Homo sapiens: one gene and its partner. The protein of the gene in region 2 interacts with the protein of the main gene of each other region in a pairwise test. Each region holds a gene or a part of one and is shown on either strand. Other genes may lie near its edges.

The links. The genes of interacting proteins can lie anywhere in the genome.
Region 1: the proteins of DNM2 (region 2) and DCLRE1B interact in binary tests that used the Homo sapiens proteins (3 or more experiments, as listed by UniProt).

What each region holds. Positions count from the first base shown.
Region 1 is NC_000001.11:113,908,326-113,911,455, forward strand, and holds part of DCLRE1B (5' exonuclease Apollo), read left to right. Parts: intron 1-2,805; coding exon 2,806-3,130.
Region 2 is NC_000019.10:10,826,079-10,829,240, reverse strand, and holds part of DNM2 (dynamin-2), read right to left. Parts: intron 269-3,162; exon of another isoform or gene 206-268; coding exon 1-205. UniProt on the Homo sapiens protein: Catalyzes the hydrolysis of GTP and utilizes this energy to mediate vesicle scission at plasma membrane during endocytosis and filament remodeling at many actin structures during organization of the actin cytoskeleton.

The DNA of each region.
Region 1 (3,130 bases), on a different chromosome or scaffold from region 2:
GGCTAGGTGTGGTGGTTCATGCCTATAATCCCAGCACTTTGGGAGGCCAAGATGGGAGGGTCATTTGAGCCCAGGCGTTTGAGACCAGCTTGGGCAACATGGCAAGACCCTGTCTCTACAAAAAATTTAAAAATCAGTTGGGCACGATGGTGCGTGCCTGTGGTCCCAGCTACACAGGGGACTGAGACAGGAGGATTGCCTGGGTCCAGTAGGAGGTCAAGGTTGCAGTGAGCCATGTAAGTGCCATTGCACTCCAGCCTGGATGACAGAGCAAGACCCTGTCTCAATAAATGAATGAATGAATGAAATAAGTAAAACTGCAACCTGCCCACCATCCCCATTCCCAACTCCTGATCATCCATACCAATTCATTTTTTTCATTTTTTTATAGCACTCATATACTATATATATTTTTAAATATGCTATTGCTTACTTGTTGTCTATCATGCACTTCCTCTGGCCCATGCACATACGCGTGCACACACACACACACACAAGCATAAACTCCTTAAGAGCATCACTGGAAATGGGAAGAGACTTTGTGTGTTTGTGGAACAGAGAAGCAGCAGTCAGTATGACAGGCACACAGTGGGCAAGGAGGCTGAAAAGGCAAGAGGGGCTGAAGTGCTGTTAAGCCATTTTGGACTTGATCCTAAACCCAACCAAGAGCTATTGAAGGATTTTAAGTAGAAGAGGGACAATATGCACTCATCACCTTGCAATATATTCTATAATTTATGTATTTATTGGACTTTTTATTGTCTGATTCCCCCTGCTAGAATGTGAATTCCACTATGGCAGTCTCTGTTTTATTATGGGTGTATCACAAATGCCTACACTAATGCCTGACACAGAAGCATTCAATATGAATGAATGAAATTTATCAGAACATAGATATTTAAGTGAGCGTTGTGCTTTAAATTAAGTATACTGAAAAAACAGGTTTGTGCTTGTTGTACTGATTATAAATAGTATAAAACATTGTTGAGGACTCTTTCTTGGAGTTGCCATTTGGAATAGTTTATGAAAATACATTTTTGTTTTATAAAATAAATAAATGTAATAGATTTGGTTCTAAATTACTTTTTTGGTTGTTTCCAAATTTGTGAGTCTACAAAAGGACAAAGACTTGCCACCATTATAAATATTTGAAAAGGACATGTCTCAACTCTGAAAGGAGTTTCAAAATGAGACTAAACAAAGGCATTGAAAAAATTATATAACTTCCAGGGTGACTACCAAATCGATTGAGAAATATCCTCTACTCTCAGGATTGCTTAGCTACTTATAAAGACCTAACCATTCTTAATATTTTAATGCAGAATTTTCTCAAAAAAGCAAAGCTGGCTAGGAGGATGCTATAGTAAGCCTTAATTAATTTTGCAAATATGTAATAAGCCTCTACCCACTAAGTACCAAGTATCCAATAGGCAGTGGGGATATAAAGATGAATAAAATATAGTCTCTGACTTGGAGGGCTCACAGTCTGGTAGGGAAGGACCTGTGGGGAGGTGGAAGTGGGAATATATATAGAGAGAAGAAAAATCCGCTCCATTTGTGCCCAAGGAGTGAGATTTTGAACCATAATCAGGAATAAAGTGGATATAAATAATATATACTTCTTTTTATGGCGTTCACAATCTGGTTGTGGATTTGAAACTTCTTCAGAAAAAGTCTGAGAACAGCTATTAAACAACATCTCCCATATCTGTTACCATAACCATTTCCCAAATTAATGTCTCCATTTCTTTCTCTGTAAGTACTATTTGGGCCCTTCAATTGAAACTTCCACTCCAGCTTCTTCTCATCCTGGCAGTCAAATAATATTATTACCATATTTTTCTTTTTAAAGCCCTGCTCTGAGCATATTATTCTTATGATTAGAATTAGCCATTTTCCTGCTTCACACTCAGTGGCTCCCCTTCACTTACACAATGAAGTCCAAGCTTCTTAGCGGTACATATAAGACGCTCTATTATATGGCCCTTGCTTGCCTCTCTGGTATCATTTCTTATCAATTCCTTTTTTACTTTAGTAACAGCAAACTGACCCCTCTTAAAATGTTTTCCACTATACCCTTTCTACCCTTTCCTTGCCAGGTTAACCTTGCCCATCCTTTAAGATTTAGCCTAACGTTCCCTAACTCCATCACCTGTTAGATACAATACTGTATACTTTTTTTGTTTTTTTTTAAGAGACAGGGTCTCACTCTGTTGCCCAGGCTGGAGGGTAGTGGCATGATCACAGCTCACTGCAGCCTGGACCTCCCGGACTCAAGTGATCCTCCCGCGTCAGCTTCCTGTGTACCAGGAACTATAGGCGTGCACCAACATGCTTATTTGTTTATTTTTGTAGAGACAGGGTCTTGCCAGGTTGCCCAGGTTGGTCTTGAACTCCTGGGCTCAAGCAATCCTCCTGCCTCAGCCTCCTAAAATTGTAGGCTTACAGGTGTGAGCCACAGTGCCCGGCCTGTACACATATCTTTAACGTTGCTCTTAATTGTGGTTTTTCTGGGTCTCCTTGTAGATAGTACTTCTTGAGGACTGACAGTTTTCTTTATTAGTTTTCATGGTGCCTGAAACTTGCTAGATGCTCTCTTTTGTTGAACTAAATGAATGAGTGGATTCTGTGTCATTCCCTTTCATATGTCTTAGCTCAAATGCCACCTCTTCCTTGATATTCTCCCTGGATTTCTCCATGAATTGTATCTATTTTTGTTAAACATTTTGTTGATTTATTAGGATTTTCCAATAGCTTAATTTTCTTCCTTCTCTTACTTTCCCCAATACATTGAACATTATTTAGGACTCTACAGCCTGGGAAAGGAATCACTGCTGGAGCAGCTGGCCCTGGAGTTTCAGACCTGGGTGGTATTGAGTCCTCGGCGCCTGGAGTTGGTACAGCTACTGGGCCTGGCAGATGTGTTCACAGTGGAGGAGAAGGCTGGCCGCATCCATGCAGTAGACCATATGGAGATCTGCCATTCCAACATGCTGCGTTGGAACCAGACCCACCCTACGATTGCTATCCTTCCCACAAGCCGAAAAATCCACAGCTCCCACCCTGATATCCACGTCATCCCTTACTCTGACCATTCCTCTTACTCCGAGCTTCGTGCCTTTGTCGCAGC
Region 2 (3,162 bases):
TGTCATCGACAGGCGGGGGTACAGGCGTGGACACAGTGCTGGTGCTGATGTCACCGATGATGTTGAGCGCCTCCTTGAGGGCATGGTACATGCGCAGCATGTCGTCCCGCCGCTGTGCCTGGTCAGCCGACTCCTCCATGAGGCTGCTCTGGTCTGCCGAGGAGTATAGGTAGGCCAGCAGCTCGTGGTGGATGAAGGCCTTCGTCTGCGGGCAGGGGTTGGGGAGGGTCAGGCTTGTGTATCACCCCAACCCAGAACCCACAGTGACTGCTGGAAAAACATCTCTCACAGGGCGGGGCCACCCCCAGACTTTTTTGAAAAAGAGTCTTGCTCTGTCACCCAGGCTGGAGTACAGTGGCTCAATTTCAGCTCACTGCAACCTCCGCCTCCCGGGTTCAAGTAATTATCCTGCCTCAGCCTCCCAAGTAGCTAGGACGACAGGCACGTTGACACCATGCTTGGCTAAGTTTTGTAATTTTTTTAGAGATAGGGTTCCACCATGTGGCCCAGGCTGGTTATGAGATTCTTATTCAACTTATTTCTAGTATCTTGCCTCTTCCATTGATGTCTTTTCTCCTGTTTTAGCTTATTTATTTATTTCCTTAACCTTGGCAGAATAATCCTGTTATATCTTTTTTGTTTTTGCTTTTTTTTTTTTGAGACAGTCTCACTGTCGCCCAGGTTGGAGTGCAGTGGTGCAATCTCAGCTCACTGCAACCTCCGCCTCCCGGGTTTATGCCATTCTCCTGCCTCAGTCTCCCAAGTAGCTGGGACTACAGGCGCCTGCCACCACGCCCAGCTTATTTTTTGTATTTTTAGTAGAGACAGGGTTTCACCCTGTTAGCCAGGATGGTCTCGATCTCCTGACCTTATGATCCGCCTGCCTCAGCCTCCCAAAGTGCTGGGATTACAGGCGTGAGCCACCGCGCCCAGCCAATCCTGTTATATCTTTATTTTTTTGTGACAGAGTCTCACTCTGTCACCCAGGCTGCAGTGCAATCTTGGCTCACTGCAACCTGCGTCTCCTGGGTCCAAGCAATTCTTGTGCCTCAACCTCCCAAGTAGCTGGGACTACAGGCGTGCCCCCCAACCCCCGGCTAATTTTTGTATTTTTAGCAGAGATGGGGTTTCACCATATTGGCCAGGCTGGTCTTTAACTCCTGACCTCAGGTGATCCACCCGCCTTGGCCTCCCAAAGTGCTGGGATTACAGGCGTGAGTGAGCCACTGCGCCCGGCTAATCCTGTTACATCTTCCACCTGGCTTCTGTTCAAACACTACTAGTTTCTGTTCATGAATTTTATACATTGTCCTTTCTGGAACCTCCTACTGGATACAGAAGTTTTTCAGTTACTTTTTTTTTTCTTTTTTTTTGAGACAGAGTCTCCCTCTGTCACCAGGCTGGAGTACAGTGGCATGATCTCCGCTCATTGCAAACTCCACCTCCTAGGTTCAAGTGATTCTCCTGCCTCAGCCTCCAGAGTAGCTGGGACTACAGACGCGTGCCACCACGCCCAGCTAATTTTTGTATTTTTAGTAGAGGGGGGTTTCAGCATGTTGGCCAGGATGGTCTCAGTCTCTTGACCTCGTGATGTGCCCGCCTCAGCCTCCCAAAGTGCTGGGATTACAGGCATGAGCCACCACACCTGGCCGTCACAACTTTTTTTTTTTTTAGATAGGGTCTCACTCCTATCACTCAGGCTGGAATGCAGTGGAGCGATCTTTGCTCACCGCAGCCTCGATCTCCTGGGCTCAAGTGATCTTCCTGCCTCAGCTTCCCGAGTAGCTGGGCCGACAGATTTATTATTTTCTTAAATAATAAAATATTTTTATTTTATAAGAGTCTATTAAAAATGGATAATTATGTCCCATCTTTGGCTGCTATAAAACATCATGGAAAACAATAAGCATGTATAAGCTCACTTTGCACGTGGGCAATTGTCTCTCTTAGAGAAGTTCCTAAAAGTAAACTTGCAGGGTCAAAGGATATATGCATTTTAAATTTCATAGCAGAAGAACCGTATATGTCTCCGATCCTATCGGTATATGAGGAAACATACCAGGACACCATGAAACTGTGAACACTGATCACTACTGAGAATGGGAGCAACAGGGTGGGAGGGCATGGCACGTGGGAGGTGTGTGTGTGTTTTAAATAGGGATGGGGTCTCACTATGTTGTCCAGGCTGGTCTTGAACTCCTGGGATCGAGTGATCCTCCTGCCAAGCCTCCCAAAGTGCTGGGAGTACAGATGTGAGCCACCATGCCCAGCCACACCCTGTGTGGGAGTTTTACTTAGATCCGCAGGTTTCTGTGGTTGACATTCATATACAAAACCCAAGACACTTTTTTTTTGAAAGAGGTTCCTGCTCCATCACCCAGGCTGGAGAGCAGTGGCGTAATCATGGCTCACTGCAGCCTCAACCTCCTGGGCTCAAGTGATGCTCTTACCTCGGTCTTCTGAGTAGCTGGGACTACAGGCATTTGCCACCACGCCCAGCTAATTTTTAAATTTTTTGTAGAGACTGGGGTATGGCTATGTTGCCCAGGCTGGTCTTCAGCTCCTGGGCTCAAGTGATCCTCCCTCCTCAGCCTCCCAAAGTGCTGGGATTACAGGCATGAGCCACTGCTCCGGCCCCAAAGCTGGTTTATAAAGCTTCCTGAGTGGCTAGTGCCATGCCAAAGGCCTGATACACAAGTGCCCTGAGCCCTCTAGCAGCCTGAGCTGGAGATACTATCAGTACAGCTGCATTTCACTGAAGAGGAGCCCAGAGCCCTGAGAGTCTCCAGGGAACCCGGGGCCAGGCGGGTGACGCCCATGAGGAAGAGGCTGGGCCCCAGATCATTAGGACACAGCGGCTGCCCAACACAACCCAAGGGTATGGTTGCAACCAGGGTAAACGTGGGTTTGAATCCCACTTCCCACTTTCCTAAGGAACTTGGGGCAGGTTACTTGATCTCTCTGGCCTTGTTTTCTGTCTGTGAAATGGGGAAGATGGCCGTTCTCCCTCCTGCAGTTATTCTGATGCCAGCCTAAGTTAATTCAGAGAAGGCGCACACCTGCAGTGTTCACTCCAGTTAGTGGACTTGATGGGACTATGGACCCAGTGTGGCTCGGAAACCCTAGGGTTTCCCAAAGAGGATGGCCGTGCAGATTCTGGTG